2 linked regions of the Homo sapiens genome follow. The protein of the gene in region 2 interacts with the protein of the main gene of each other region in a pairwise test. Each region holds a gene or a part of one and is shown on either strand. Other genes may lie near its edges.

Region 1 (3,500 bases), about 71 Mb from region 2:
CCCTGTTCCTACAACAGCCATCCCACAGGACAGGGAGAGAAGGAAGGGAAGAGGGGAGGAGGGGAGGGAGGAAGGAGGGGAAGGAGGGAGAAAGGGAGGGAAGAGGGTAGCAGGGAAGGAAGGGAGGGAGGGAGTGAAGAGAGAAGCGGGAAGGGAGGGAAGGAGGAAGGAGTGGCTGGGTCTTTTCCTTTCCTTGGGCTCCCCACATCCTTCTACCTACAATGGGTAGACAGTTACCCTCTAATATGCAGGAATGCACAACAGCCGACTGGAGACACAGCCTGGTCCGTGGGTGGCTTCCCGAGCAGCCAACCACATTTCCCTGGGCTGGACAGGGGGAAGGAAGCCAATCTAACAGTTGGCCTGAAAAACATCCATGCATCATCCTGTTTTCCAGCCTTCACTTTTTCCCCAAAAAAATCAATTTCTGAAAGTCAAAATGATTGATAGCTTTATACCCTGTGCAATCATTCTCCTTATTAAATAACTCAGCATCGATGATTTAAAAAAGGCTTCCAGAGTGGTGGTGGTTACAGGAATCTATACATGTGATAAATTTTCACAGAAAGACACACACATGAGTGATGCATGTAAAAAGTAGTGAAATCTTGAGGTCAGGAGATCGAGACCATCCTGGATAACACGGAAAACCTCATCTCTACTAAAAAAAAAAAAAATACAAAAAAATTAGCAGGGCGTGGTGGCGGGCGCCTATAGTCCCAGCTACTCAGGAGGCTGAGGCAGGAGAATGGCGTGAACCTGGGAGGTGGAGTTTGCAGTGAGCCAAGATCACGCCACGGCGCTCCAGCCTGGGTGACAGAGCGTCTCAAAAAAAAAAAAAAACTACTGAAATCTGAGTAAGCTCTAGGTTAGTTACCAACATCTATTTCCTGGTTGCGTAAGATGCTATCATGCTGGATCAAGAGGACACAGGAACTCTCTGCTATTTTTGCAACCTCTTGTGAGTCAAAAATTATTTCAAAATAAAAAGTTTTAAAAATCCAAAAAAGCCTTTTAAACAGTAAAATAAAATAAAAATAATCACTTTTTAAAAAAGCTCCCAGGAGGAAACACCACAAACCCATCCCTTACCTGAGAACTGGGAATCAGCGCCTTCCACCAGTGCCCGCCCTTGACCAGGTCAACTTCACACAAAGGCACAGAAACTTTCCCAATGACACAGTGGCGGGAGAACTTATCAAAATCCACCACGGTCAGGAGCAGGGTCCTCCTCTGGGCCTCCAGGAAGGGGATCTCGAAGGTGTAGCGCTCCTCAAACACGGGCTTCTGGGTCTTGCGTTTGACCCCGGTCTGCTTTGAGTTCTTCTGGTCTGGCAGGAGACAGATCTTGACGTAGGGGTTGGAGTGCGCCATGTCCTGGCGCGAGCCATCGTGGGAGATGGGAGGTGGCAGGTCCCTGGCCTCGATCACGCGCACGGTGAGGTGGTTGTGCAGCAGGTCGTACTGAGTGCTGAAGTGCAGCATGCCCAGCTGGTACTTGGACAGGATCTCCTCGTCTGTCAGAGAGTCCACATCGTCGCTGTTGGAGTCGAGGGAGTACAGGTGGGGTTCGAACTTCCTGAAATAGTCGTCGGGGTTATAGGTCCGTCTGAGCACCGAAGGTTGGATGGGCTCCTTCTTGGCGCTGAGAACGCCAAACTCGATGGGTTTAATATCGATGAGTGGAGAGCTGGGACGTCTTGACTCAAGACCTGAGAGCCACCAGAAATAACAATGAAGACAGCCACATACGGGGCAGACCTGGGCCACTTTGCAGGTAAGCAGATTCTTGCATTGTTTACTCTGCTTCAGAATGACCTTTGCCATCTTTCTCCACACTCTGAAATACTCACTGATTCTGTGACAGATAGTTTGGTGGCACTATTGACACCTTGCCATCATCACAGCAGCTAAGTGCCAGGCACTGCTCTAATGGACTGTGTACACTACATCATCGCATATGTGCAATCACAATCTTCACATCCCCTTGAATTATTAGATAATTACTATTATCCCCACTTTATAGACGAGGAAACAGAAGCTTTAAGTAACTTTCTGAAGGTCACACACTTGCAAGTGTAGGAGCCAGGGGTCAGGCTGGTCTAGCTGACCCCAGAGTCTGGCTCTAACCATTATCCTACGATGTCTCCACTTTAAGAGAGTGAGCTCTGGGACCAGAGTGCCTGGGTGGAATTCCATCTCAGCCACTTACTCACTACTCGTGTACTCATTACCAGTGAGCCATGTGACTCCGGGCATATTCTTTTGACTCTCTGGGACTCTGTTTTCCCATCAGTAAAATAGAGTCAATAACGGCACCTACCTCAAAGAATGTGGTGAAGATTCACTGAGCCAGGGCATGAAAAGAGCATGGCACAGAATGTGCCCGTAGGCACAGACCAATAAATGGGAACGACTGTACTTCTTCAAGGTTCATATTCAAACCTCACCGCTTACGGGCCGCCTCTCTCCCTTCCATGAACCAGCAGAATGCATTGATCCCAAGTTCATTATTCCAACCTTTGCACATCCCTCTCTTCTAGCAATGAGCTCATGGCATTCTTGCTAATTGCCCAAACAGTTGTCTTTATGAGACATTTGCCAGAGGCATGGGAGGTACTCTGATAGATGTATGCTAAATGGAGATAACCTGTGTTCAGAGCTGGGCATGAGACTTAGAAATTACCTAGGCCCACACTGTCCATAGAAAGATAACGCAAGCCAGAAATGCAAGCCACACATGTAACTTAAAATGTTCTGGCAGCCACGACTTTTAAAATATGCAAATAAAAGGGCAAAATTCATTTAATTTTATTTATTTATTTTGAGACAGAGTCTTGCTCTATCGTCCAGGCTGGAGTGCAGTGGCGGATCTCGGCTCACTGCAACCTCCACCTTCCAGGTGCAAGTGAATCTCATGGCTCAGCCTCTCAAGTAGCTGGGACTACAGTTGTATACCACCACACCTGGCCCATTTTTGCATTTTTAATAGAGATGGAATTTCATCATGTTGGCCAGGATGGTCTTGAACTCCTGGCCTCAAGCTATCTGCCTGCCTCGGCCTCCCAAAGTGCTGGGATTACAGGCGTGAGCCACCGCGCCCAGCCTGCAAAATTAATTTTAATATTTTATTTTATTTAACCCACTATATCCAATGTATACTCATTTCAACATGGAACCAATATAAAAATATTTTAGTGAGATACTTTAAATCCTCTCTCTCTTTTTTTTTTTTTTTTTGAGACAGAGTTTCATTTTTGTTGCCTGAGCTGGAGTGTAGTGGTGCAATCTCGGCTCACTGCAACCTCCACCTCCCGGGTTCAACCGATTCTCCTGCCTCAGCCTCCCAGGTAGCTGGGATTACAGGCATGCGCTACCATGCCCGTCTAATTTTGTATTTTTAGTAGAGATGGGGTTTCACCATGTTAGCCAGGCTGGTCTCGAAGTCCTGACCTCAGGTGATCCTCCCGCCTCGGCCTCCCAAAGTGCTGGGATTACAG
Region 2 (3,843 bases):
CTGGCTTCCCAGTCCCCTTGTTTCTGCAATGTGGCTTCAGGGCAGGGTGGCCAGGCGTCAGGCTCTGACTTTCCTCCTTGTCCTCCATTGTCCCTGACAGTGGGAAGGTACGAGGGAACAAAGCTTTCAAGGTGGAGTGGCTGTTGGGAACTGTATAAAGGAGACAGGACACTTCTTCCTTTCATGGGTCACAGACTAATCTGGCTGTTTGACCCACATAGTGCCTTTAAAGCAGGGGTGTCCAATCTTTTGCCTTCCCTGGGCCACACTGGAAGAATTGTCTTGGGCCACACATAAAATACGCTAACACTAACAACAGCCGATGAGCTTAAAAAAAAAAATTGCAAGGCTGGGCGCAGTGGCTCCCGCCTGTAATCCCAGCACTTTGGAAGGCCAAGGCGGGCAGATTACCTGAGGTCAGGAGTTCGAGATCAGCCTGGCCAACATGATGAAACCCCATCTCTACTAAAAAATACAAAAATTAGCTGGGCGTGGTGTCACATGCCTGTAATCCCAGCTACTCGGGAGGCTGAGGCAGGAGAATCACTTGAACCCAGGAGGCGGAGGTTGCAGTGAGTTGAGATTGTGTCACTGCACTCCAGCCTGGGCGACAGAATGAGACTGACTCAAAAAAAAAAATTTTGCAAAAAAACCTCAGTGATTTTTTGAGACAGAGTCTCTATCACCCAGGCTGGAGCACAGGCACATGCCACCACACCCGGCTAATTTTTTGTATTTTTAATAGAGACGGGGTTTCACCATGTTAGCCAGGATGGTCTCAATCTCCTGACCTCATTATCCGCCTGCCTCATCCTCCCAAAGTGCTGGGATTACAGGCGTGAGCCACCGTGCCCAGCCCTCAGTGATGTTTTAAGAAAGTTTAGGAATTTGTGTTGGGCCACATTCGAAGTCATACAGCCTCGGATTGTTGCACAAGCTTGCTTTAACAAGATTCATACTGTTGCCAAACACATATAACGGATCTCCATAGAAGTCCAGTGGTCCAGCTTCTCTTGAAAAACCAAAAGTCCGGCCGGGCGCGGTAGCTCACGCCTGTAATCCCAGTACTTTGGGAGGCCGAGGCGGGTGGATCACGAGGTCAGGAGATCAAGACCATCCTGGTTAATGCGGTGAAACCCCGTCTCTACTAAAAATACAAAAAATTAGCCGGGCATAGTGGCGGGCACCTGTAGTCCCAGCTACTCAGGAGGCTGAGGCAGGAGAATGGCATGAACCCGGGAGGCGGAGTTTGCAGTGAGCCGAGATTGCGCCACTGCGCTCCAGCCTGGGCGACAGAGCGAGACTCCGTCTCAAAAAAAAAAAGAAAAAAAGAAAAACCAAAAGTCCTGGCAATACCAAAACCTGTGTTTTCTTTCTTTTTGTTATTTTTTGTTTTGGTTTTGTTTTTTTGAGACAGAGTCTCACTCTATCACCCCAGCTGGAGTGCAGTGGCCAGATCTCGGCTCACTGCATCACCTCCCGGGATCAAGCTATTCTGCCTCAGCCTCCCGAGTAGCTGGGATTACAAGTGTGCACCATGCCCAGCTAATTTTTGTATTTTTAGTAGAGACAGAGTTTCACCATGTTGGCCAGGCTGGTCTCGAACTCCTGACCTCAGGTGATCCGCCCGGCCTTAGCCTCCTAAAGTGCTGGCATTAGAGGCGGGAGCCACTGCACCTGGCCAAAACCTGTGTTTTGGAAGGGCAGGCAAGAAGGGGCAGATGTTGCAGCCCACCCCAGATGGCTCCCCTCCTCTTTCTCCTCACCTCCTGGCCTCAGAGCAATCCGGGAGGATGAGAGAGACTCCTCTGGTGTCCAGACACCACTGGGCTTCCTGGGGTCTAGACAGCAGCTTGTCACATTTCCAGAGAGCTGACGCCACTGGAGGAGGCCTCCCTGCAGAATCAGAAGCTGAAGGCTGCGTATGAGGCCCGAATGGCGCGGCTAGACCCCAGCCAGGCCATGCAGAAGACATCCCTGGTGAGTGGGGGCTAGGGAGGGCCTGGGGGTGCGTGGGCGCGGGGCAGAGGGGAGTCGGCCTTACTCCCTCCTCCCCCCCCAGACCCTCTCTCTACAGCGGCAGATGATGGAGAACCTAGTGATTGCCAAAGCCCGGGAGGAGACAGCAGCCTTTCTGACCGCCCTGGTGGTCCCCGAGGGGAAACTCAGTGTGGCCTTGAGCCAAGGGCAGAGAAGGGGGCAGCGAGGGGAGCGGAGGTTCCGGGGTCGGGGTACAGGGCCGAGGGGCTCCCCGCTTTGCAGAGGCAGGGTCTCAGGGGAAGGCCCGGCCGCCGTCCCCCATGTTCTCTGGCCCGGCCCTCCTGGCTTGAGCGCAGGCTGCCTTCTGCCCCAGAAGCCTTACCTGGGGACAGCCCCTCACCGAGAGGAGGTCCCTGGGACGTCCCGGCCTCTCCGGGTGTGGGACGGGGTTGGGAACCGAGGGCCCGCTCAGATCCCACGCTCGGCCCCTTGACTCTGCACCCAGCTCCAGAGAAAGATGGAGGAGCGCCGGCTGCGGCTCCAGGAGGCCGCCAACAGGTGGGACTCCTGCCCGCCCCTGGGGCCGCTGCGGGGAGGGCCTGGCCCCGGCACCCACCGCGTGCCTTTCTCCCCAGGAGGTTTTGCAGCCAAGTCGCCCTGACCCCGGAGGAACGGGAGCAGCGGGCCCTTTACGCCGCCATCCTGGAGTACGAACAGGACCATGTGCGTCCCCCACGGGCCCAGGCTTTGTAGGAGGAGCCCAGCGAGGGGGGCGGGGTCAGAGCCGCCTGGGTGGGCCCCCGTGGGGGGCGGAGCCAGAGGCTGTGGGGGGCAGTGAGGGGGCGGGGCCAGAGGCCCGTGGGAGGGCCCGGTGAGGGGGCGGGGCCAGGGCTGCGTGGGGCGGGGCAGAGCGAGGAGGCGAGGTCAGGGGTCGCGTGGGAGGGTCCCAGCGAGGAGGGAGGGTCCCTGCGAGGAGGGAGGGTCCCAGCGAGGGTGCAGGCCCAGGGTTCGCCTAAGGTTTCCCTCGGGTGTGGGTGGGGGCGGGGGCGGGTCGCGGGGCCTGCTGGCGCTGGGTCTCCTGCACCCCAGGACGGGCTCCCACAGTCTCTAGGGGTCGGCACTGGTGGGAGATGAGGCGCGTCCGGTCGTGGCGGACCCACCGTGCTTTCCTTCAAGGCCCCCTGTCCCGTAGGACTGGCCGAAGCACTGGAAGGCCAAGCTCAAGAGGAATCCGGGGGACCTGTCACTCGTGACCAGCCTGGTCTCACACCTGCTCAGGTAGCTGGGCCTTCAGGCCCCACAGAGCCCCTGCGCACCGGCCTTGGGCACCTCTGCCTGGTGCCAGGTGCCGGAGAGGGGCTGGACTGACACAGGGAGCCTGTGCCCGGCCACGTGGACACTGCAGCTCCCTTTGCGCTGAGGGCGTTTCCTCGGCTTCTCCAACCTCCCCAGCGGGGGCGGGGGGCAGACTTTCCAACATTCACTGTCAGGAGGTAATGCAAGTCGCTTCTCTGAAACCGGGCATAGCGCGGCACCTGTGGATGCCACGGAGAGGCCGAGGCTGGCCGCGTTCTCACGTCCTCTTCTCCCGCAGCCTCCCCGACCACCCGATCGCGCAGCTCCTGAGGCGGCTGCAGTGCTCCGTGTACAGCGCCCTGTATCCCGCCGTGAGCAGAGCAGCCGCGCCAGCCCCAGGCTGCTGCCCCCCGACCCCCAACCCCGGAAGCCGACGGCTGCGGCCCTCGCAGAGCCTCCATTGCATGCTGTCCCCGCCCGAGCCCAGCGCAGCCCCGCGGCCCCAGGACAGTCCCCCCACGCCCCCACTCCAACCCGGCCCCGTGGGGTCTCCCTCACCCCTGGGGG

The links. Proteins that work in one complex are often made in the same cells at the same time.
Region 1: the proteins of VPS9D1 (region 2) and SYT17 interact in binary tests that used the Homo sapiens proteins (3 or more experiments, as listed by UniProt).

Annotation. Positions count from the first base shown.
Region 1 is NC_000016.10:19,181,740-19,185,239, reverse strand, and holds part of SYT17 (synaptotagmin-17), read right to left. Parts: intron 1,778-3,500; exon of another isoform or gene 1,713-1,777; coding exon 1,093-1,712; intron 1-1,092. UniProt on the Homo sapiens protein: Plays a role in dendrite formation by melanocytes.
Region 2 is NC_000016.10:89,710,742-89,714,584, reverse strand, and holds part of VPS9D1 (VPS9 domain-containing protein 1), read left to right. Parts: intron 1-1,766; exon of another isoform or gene 1,767-1,868; coding exon 1,869-1,980; intron 1,981-2,062; coding exon 2,063-2,125; intron 2,126-2,362; exon of another isoform or gene 2,363-2,485; coding exon 2,486-2,538; exon of another isoform or gene 2,539-2,615; coding exon 2,616-2,703; exon of another isoform or gene 2,704-2,729; intron 2,730-3,172; coding exon 3,173-3,258; intron 3,259-3,574; coding exon 3,575-3,843.